2 linked regions of the Homo sapiens genome follow. The protein of the gene in region 1 purifies or fractionates together with the protein of each later gene. This does not show direct contact. Each region holds a gene or a part of one and is shown in the gene's direction. Other genes may lie near its edges. The genes, in order: LILRB1 and PLTP.

Region 1 (4,413 bases):
CCTGGGGTCTCTTATATGCACACTTTTTTCAACCAAACGGGGGTCAAAACTGTAGCATTTGTGGGATGCAAGACTTGTGTATATGAACGGCAGACTTTTCCTATATGCAGGCCCAGCAGAGACAATGTCGGGGCTGGAGTACGAGCAGGTGTTGGTGCATGTAGCGGGTACTGAAACGAATTGCCTGTGTATCCCAAGAAACAACTCTACTGAGAGATCATATTCTCTAGGGGTTTATTTTTGTTTTTATTTTTATTTTAAGTTAAAGCTTCGGGTAGAACACCCAGTGTCTCCTTGTCCATCTGAAGAAGATGCTGCTATGTGGAAGCACATCCTTGAGATCCACAAGGAGACACTGGGCAAGGAGACGAGGGTGCCCCACTGTGCAGAAGTCTCCCTAATAAATGATCTATGAACACCCTGGTGTTTAGTGCTTCTTTCTTTGGAATCCCAGCAGCTCTGTCACTGGACGGTTTGGTGCACTCCCTTGAGGGAATTCCCCTGGGCTGCTTGGGGTCCACTCCAGCCTCAGGTGTAGCTGGAGGACGCAGCCTCCCACCTTGGTCTGGAGCCCTGAGCCCCTCACTGTCATTGCAGATCCCGAGGTTCCTCTCCTGGCTCCACTCAGTGGTGGAAACCTCCACCCTAATGAGCCCTTGATGGTCCCAGGTCCCTGTGGCATCTCACCTGTGGCCTCTGTTCTTTCCTGTGGATCCATCTACACTTGGGAACTTCCACATCTCTTTTTCTGCTCATGACATTGATGCTCTGGGTATTTCAGAAATGCCCAGATAGATGGACAAATACACGTCCATCTATCCATTAGGGTCAGATGTGAGATCCAGAGTGGACACATCAATCACCTACGTAGACTGTGGAGTCCAACGCCAAGATCCTCTTATGTCCCAAACACCTCAGGTCTTACCCTGGTCTGGAAATCAGGCACAAATGAGCCCCTCCTAATGTTCCAGCACCACTGACCGTACAACCACTGTCACGAGTGGGATTTGTGACAACAGTCGGCAAAGGAAGAATCTGAGGCTCAGAGATGGTTCATTACCGCCCGAGGTCACGTAGGCAGTGGATGATAACCAGTCGTTGAATAAATATAACTCCCCCCCAACTCCCCAAATCAAAGCTCAAATATAAGTCATTGTTCCCAAAGCGTTGAACAGGGATTGAGGTGCAGAGGGACGGCCAAGTAAGCAAAGGGCACCGAGGAGGCAGGAAAGACTCAGAGATTTGTTCCCGGGGGGTGGGGTTGGACACTGTAGCAAAATATTTTAAAAAGGGGAAGTTAAGAGGGGACTATTTGGTTGAAAGAAAACCCACAATCCAGTGTCAAGAAAGAAGTCAACTTTTCTTCCCTATTTCCCTGCATTTCTCTTCTGTGCTCACTGCCACACGCAGCTCAGCCTGGGCGGCACAGCCAGATGCGAGATGCGTCTCTGCTGATCTGAGTCTGCCTGCAGCATGGACCTGGGTCTTCCCTGAAGCATCTCCAGGGCTGGAGGGACGACTGCCATGGTAAGGACCCCACAACACTGAGCTGATGGACGGCTGAAGGAGGGAGGGTGACCATGTGGGAGGCTGTGAGAAGGAAGGAGATGCCTCCGCTACCCTCGTCAGGAAGGGCAGACACAGGAAGGAACCAGTTTTATTTGCTGCTACATCCTGGCTCTCAGTGGGATGAAAACAAACCAGACAGACGGTGGCTGGGGGTCAGGAAAGGGCCCATTACCATCTGAAATGATGCAGAGGGCCTAGTGACTGCCCCCACCTCAGCCCTAATGGAATGAGAGCAAGGGTCCTGGGGAGGGCAGTTCCACTTCCTGTGTGGCTGCAGATGACAGCACCCCATGAGAAGAAGGACCCAGCCTCCGATTGGCCACACTCTGTGTGTCTCTCTATCCTGCCAGCACCGAGGGCTCATCCATCCACAGAGCAGGGCAGTGGGAGGAGACGCCATGACCCCCATCCTCACGGTCCTGATCTGTCTCGGTGAGATTTGAAGAAGGAGGGGAGCTTCTAACCTAAGAGGGACCTCACCCCACAGCCAAACTCTTGTCCCTAAGGAGACCCCAGGGGCTCACAAAGATCCCAGGGAGGGGAGGACCTGCCCAGGCTTCAGGGGGCAAATCCCTCACCGGGAACTCTCTTCCAGGGCTGAGTCTGGGCCCCCGGACCCACGTGCAGGCAGGTGAGTCTGTCCCCAGCTCTTCCAGGTCCCTCCTCCTCACTGGGGACAAGGGGCCACCCCCGTGCCGCTGGGGATGGGGAATAGCAGTTCTGGGCTGACTGATGGGGGCGTCTGGAGGGTCCTGGGCTGAGAGCTGGAATCTGCTGGGTTGGGTGGGAAATGAGTTAGAATCTGACTCCTGATTTCCTTCCAGGGCACCTCCCCAAGCCCACCCTCTGGGCTGAACCAGGCTCTGTGATCACCCAGGGGAGTCCTGTGACCCTCAGGTGTCAGGGGGGCCAGGAGACCCAGGAGTACCGTCTATATAGAGAAAAGAAAACAGCACCCTGGATTACACGGATCCCACAGGAGCTTGTGAAGAAGGGCCAGTTCCCCATCCCATCCATCACCTGGGAACACACAGGGCGGTATCGCTGTTACTATGGTAGCGACACTGCAGGCCGCTCAGAGAGCAGTGACCCCCTGGAGCTGGTGGTGACAGGTGAGCTGACACTCAGGGGTCCCAGCCCCAGACTCTGCCCTCAGGAAGGGGGACGGCTCTCAGGGGCTTCTCCCTCTCACAGCCCAGCCCTGGGGATGACGCGGGTGGTCTGAGCCACATTTAACACGGTGCCTCCTTCTCTCCTAGGAGCCTACATCAAACCCACCCTCTCAGCCCAGCCCAGCCCCGTGGTGAACTCAGGAGGGAATGTAACCCTCCAGTGTGACTCACAGGTGGCATTTGATGGCTTCATTCTGTGTAAGGAAGGAGAAGATGAACACCCACAATGCCTGAACTCCCAGCCCCATGCCCGTGGGTCGTCCCGCGCCATCTTCTCCGTGGGCCCCGTGAGCCCGAGTCGCAGGTGGTGGTACAGGTGCTATGCTTATGACTCGAACTCTCCCTATGAGTGGTCTCTACCCAGTGATCTCCTGGAGCTCCTGGTCCTAGGTGAGAAATTCACAGCATTGCCTGGAGTTCCCTGAGTCTCCAGGCAGGTGGGGAGCAGCCGCGTCTCAGGGCAGTTCCAGGTGGGATGATGTTGGGGCGAGAGGGCTCAGGGCTCCTGGGGCCAGAGACACAGGAAGATCAGCAGTGATGTGGCCCCGGGGGAAAGGGAAGATTTGTGGGGAAGCCTGAGGGTCGGCTCCTGGAAACCATGACCACCTTTTCCCAGGTGTTTCTAAGAAGCCATCACTCTCAGTGCAGCCAGGTCCTATCGTGGCCCCTGAGGAGACCCTGACTCTGCAGTGTGGCTCTGATGCTGGCTACAACAGATTTGTTCTGTATAAGGACGGGGAACGTGACTTCCTTCAGCTCGCTGGCGCACAGCCCCAGGCTGGGCTCTCCCAGGCCAACTTCACCCTGGGCCCTGTGAGCCGCTCCTACGGGGGCCAGTACAGATGCTACGGTGCACACAACCTCTCCTCCGAGTGGTCGGCCCCCAGCGACCCCCTGGACATCCTGATCGCAGGTGAGGAGCCCAGCGGGTTCAGTCAGGGACCCAGGCTCCGCACAGGCCCTGCCGGGGGAGCTCAGGTAGTGATGGCCGGGATGAGGGATGGGGGTCCCAAGGGAGGGAGAGACAGACAGAGACAGGGGATGGGCGGGGAGGGGGAGACTCAGAGAAAACAGAGACAGAGACACTGAGGGTCCCAGAGGGAGACCTGGGGAGGTGTCAGCTCAGAGCAAGGTGGGGCAGCCCCTCGCCCATCCTTCTTCTCTCCAGGACAGTTCTATGACAGAGTCTCCCTCTCGGTGCAGCCGGGCCCCACGGTGGCCTCAGGAGAGAACGTGACCCTGCTGTGTCAGTCACAGGGATGGATGCAAACTTTCCTTCTGACCAAGGAGGGGGCAGCTGATGACCCATGGCGTCTAAGATCAACGTACCAATCTCAAAAATACCAGGCTGAATTCCCCATGGGTCCTGTGACCTCAGCCCATGCGGGGACCTACAGGTGCTACGGCTCACAGAGCTCCAAACCCTACCTGCTGACTCACCCCAGTGACCCCCTGGAGCTCGTGGTCTCAGGTGGGGGCCTTGACCCTGTCCTCTCTGAGCTCAAAGTCTCAGCTCAGACCCTGCCCCAGGAGAGCTCTGGGCTGGGATGGAGTGAGCGGGGGTCTGAGAGGGGCTCAGCCAGTGGGAGACTCACCCTCAGAGGGAAGGAGGAGAACAGGGCCCTCCCAGGCCTGCCCACCCTCAGTGGCATCGCCAGCATCATGGACAGGA
Region 2 (3,808 bases), on another chromosome or scaffold:
ATTATTTGTGTTGGTATATGTAAAAAATATTTAGAACAAGGCTGGCTGTGGTGGCTCATGCCTGAAATCCCAGCAATTTGGGAGGTCTGGGCGGGCGGATCACAAGGTTAACAGATCGAGATCATCCTGGCCAACATGGTGAAACCCCATCTCTACTAAAAATACAAAAATTAGCTGGGCGTGGTGGCACGTGCCTGTAGTCCCAGCTACGTGGGAGGCTGAGGCAGGAGAATCGCTTGAACCCGGGAGGCGGAGGTTGCAGTGAGCTGAGATCGTGCCACTGCACTCCAGCCTGGTGACAGAGCAAGATTCCATCTCAAAAAAAAAAAAAAAAAAAAATTTAGAACAGCACCTGGCATATGATAAATGTATATTTAAGTGCTGGCCACTTAGATAAGAGTAACTGTGAGGACTATCTGATATGCACATTTGGCCATGTACTGGATTCTCAATAATTGGTATCTCTAAATAATAATAACAAAAATAATAATTTTTTTTTTGAGAGGGAGTCTCACTGTGTCACCCAGCCTGGAGTGCAGTGGCGCCATCTCGGTTTACTGCAACCTCCACCTCCTGGGTTCAAACGATTCTCCTGCCTCAGCCTCCCAAGTAGCTGGGACTACAGGCATGCACCACCATGCCCAACTACTTTTTTTGTATTTTTAGTAGAGACAGGGTTTCGCCATATTGGCCACGCTGGTCTCAAACTCCTGATCTCAGGTGGTCTGTCCGCCTCGGCCTACCAAAGTGCTGGGATTACAGGCCTGAGCAACTGTGCCCGGCCTATTTTTTTATTTTTGCTGCTGAGAAGGGGATATTGTTCTTGTTCTGGAAGAGGATGGGGGAGAGAAGATGATGGATTATAACCTGGTGTTGGTACACTGTCAGTATTATTTATTCATCAAACAAAGTGTATGCCAGTCCCTGAGGATGCAGGAAGGAGCTCAGAGCCTATCTGGAGCAAAAAACATTTGATATCAGGGCCTGGAGAGAAGGACTAAGAAAATGCTTTGGGGATTCAGAGGAGGGGAATCTGGGAAGACTGCCTGGAAGAGGAAGCATCTGAGCTCAGATGGGAAAATACAGAGTAGGAATGCAGAGGGCGGAAGGGAGGGCATCAGTAAGCCGATGGATGTGGGGATGCTCAGAGTGGGTTTGAGGCAATGTGGGTGGATTCATTTGACTGATGGGACCAGAGAGTAGGTCAGGAGGTCTTGAGAATTAGACTGGAGAGGGAATTTGGGCCTGGTTCTTGGAAAACCTACGTGGAGGAGCTGTTATTCAGGCTGAAGCTGAGGACTCCTACTGCCACTATTTCCCTAGTCACTGATTTCTCCTGGACCTGGACTGGGGTGGAGGCAGGTTCTGGGCTCATCCGGCCTCTCCTCTCCTCACAGGAAGGTGTATGATTTTCTCTCCACGTTCATCACCTCAGGGATGCGCTTCCTCCTCAACCAGCAGGTGTGGGCAGCGACAGGTCGCAGGGTGGCAAGGGTGGGCATGCTCTCACTTTGAGAAGGCCCTGACTCTGGCTCCCACCTCGCAGATCTGCCCTGTCCTCTACCACGCAGGGACGGTCCTGCTCAACTCCCTCCTGGACACCGTGCCTGGTGAGTTGGTGGCGGGTGAGTCTGGGTGTGCAGCTGTCATGCAGCACCTCAGAGCAGGCCCCTTCCGAGCCCTGCTGTTGAACAGTCCTGGGTTCAAATGTGGCCCCTGGAGCTGACTTGTTGTGCGATTTTGGGTGAAGTGCTCATTTCTGTCTGGGCAAAGTGCTTGTTTCCTCACTTGGCTGGCAGTGCCTCCTCCTGGGGTTGCTGTGAGGATTATCTGAGAGAATAGTTGTCAAGGTCCTCAATATGTGCATGCTGATCACTGGCATCCCATTTGTCTTCATCACCTAGCATCTAATAGGTGCTCAATTAACATGAATTCCCTTTTTCTTTTTCTTTCTTTTTTTTTTTTTTTTGCACGGAGTCTTACAGTCTCACTCTGTTGCCAGGCTGGAGTCCAGTGGCGCGATCTCAGCTCACTGCAATCTCCACCTCCCGGGTTCAAGCAATTCTCCTGCCTCAGCATCTCGAGTAGCTGGGACTACAGGCGTGCACCACCATGCCCAACTAGTTTTTTGTGTTTTAGTAGAGACGGGGTTTCACCATGTTGGCCGGGATGGTCTCGATCTCCTGACCTCCTGATCTGCCCACCTTGGCCTCCCAAAGTGCTGGGATTATAGGCATGAGCCACTGTGCCTGGCCATGAATTCCCTTTTTCTAAGCCATGACCTCTGTCTACTGTGGGGCAAAGGTATTTTCCCATCACACCTAACACACAGGCATGGGAAGCGAAGGAGGAGGTAGGAGAAACCAAGGGAAAGGAACCTCATGCCATCTTTTTTTTTTTTTTTTTTTTTTGAGATGGAGTCTCGCTCTGTCACCCAGGCTGGAGTGCAGTGGTGCAATCCTGGCTCCCTGCAACCTCCACCTCCCAGGATCAAGCGATTCTCCTGCCTCAGCCTCCTGAGTAGCTGGGATTACAGGCGCCCACCACCATGCCCAACTAATTTTTGTATTTTTAGTAGAGACGGGGTTTCACCGTGGTGGACCAGGCTGGTCTCGAACACCTGACCTCAGGTGATCCGCCCGCCTTGACCTCCCTAAGTGCTGGGATTACAGGTGTGAGCCACCATGCGCGGCCCCCCCATGCCATCTTGTTTAGTTATTTTTTTGAAACCTCTATAGTGGTAGTAATAATAATAACTAACATTAATGAGCACCTAACTACACACCAGGCCCTAAGTGCTTTCCACATAAAACTAATTTGACCCTCATGACAACCCTGTGAAGGATGTATCCTCATTTTATGGGTGGGCCTCTGAGCCTGGAGAGGTTAAGCACCTTATCCCACATCACACAGCCGTGAGTGACTTGAGCCCCTTCCTGCAGTGCGCAGTTCTGTGGACGAGCTTGTTGGCATTGACTATTCCCTCATGAAGGATCCTGTGGCTTCCACCAGCAACCTGGACATGGACTTCCGGGTGAGCTGCTTGGGCTGGTGTATGACCTCTGACTTCCTAACAAGACCTCTTTCTCTGCTAAGTTGCAAGATTTTACTTCTTAAAGCACAGCTCTGATGAGGCCACTCCCATTACTGAGAATGCTATGGCTCCCTGTTACTACAGAATTAGGTTCAGCCTCCTGGGTCTGGCATTTGAGCCCCTGTTAATCTTACCTGGCCCCACCTTTTATATCTCATCCTGTTTCTTTGCAGCTGCTCTTTCCCAAATTGGACCCTGGCTTCCCACCTCAGGGCCTTTGCTCATGCACGGCCTTTCCCCAACTCCCCCGAAGGAGCTGGACATAAATTTCTATACAAATAATCTCATTTCATTCTCTCACAACCCTGTGAGTCAGGTACTAACATCATCCTAATTTTAGGAATGTGGAGACTTACTCATAGAGGTGACGTCACTTGCCCAAGGCCACATAGCCAGTGTGTAGCCACTACCTTTGGTCTCCCAGAGGAGTATAGCAGTTTCAGAGTGCAGACTCGGGAGCTAGAATCAGTCGGGTGCAGTGGCTCATGCCTGTAATCCCAATACTTTGGGAGGCCCAGGCGAGAGGATCGCTTGAGCCCAGGAGTTTGAGACCAGCTTGGGCATCATAGTGAGACCTCCTTCTCTACAAAGAGAAAAAGAATGCCTGAAGTTCAAATCCTAGCTCTGCCACTGACTAGCTGCACGGCCCTAAGCATAAGTTTTCAGTTGGCCAGTTTCCTAACATGTAAATGGAAATAATCTAGTAAGAAAACA

What was found.
Region 2: the proteins of LILRB1 (region 1) and PLTP purify together in Homo sapiens (co-immunoprecipitation; one large-scale study listed by IntAct). This does not show direct contact.

What each region holds. Positions count from the first base shown.
Region 1 is NC_000019.10:54,629,107-54,633,519, forward strand, and holds the start of LILRB1 (leukocyte immunoglobulin-like receptor subfamily B member 1 isoform 2 precursor), read left to right. Parts: upstream 1-1,377; 5' UTR 1,378-1,524; coding exon of another isoform or gene 1,525-1,527; intron 1,528-1,846; exon of another isoform or gene 1,847-1,859; coding exon of another isoform or gene 1,860-1,967; coding exon 1,968-2,001; intron 2,002-2,164; coding exon 2,165-2,200; intron 2,201-2,393; coding exon 2,394-2,681; intron 2,682-2,828; coding exon 2,829-3,131; intron 3,132-3,357; coding exon 3,358-3,654; intron 3,655-3,909; coding exon 3,910-4,212; intron 4,213-4,413.
Region 2 is NC_000020.11:45,905,494-45,909,301, reverse strand, and holds part of PLTP (phospholipid transfer protein isoform a precursor), read left to right. Parts: intron 1-1,397; coding exon 1,398-1,461; intron 1,462-1,546; coding exon 1,547-1,610; intron 1,611-2,942; coding exon 2,943-3,034; intron 3,035-3,808. UniProt on the Homo sapiens protein: Mediates the transfer of phospholipids and free cholesterol from triglyceride-rich lipoproteins (low density lipoproteins or LDL and very low density lipoproteins or VLDL) into high-density lipoproteins (HDL) as well as the exchange of phospholipids between triglyceride-rich lipoproteins themselves.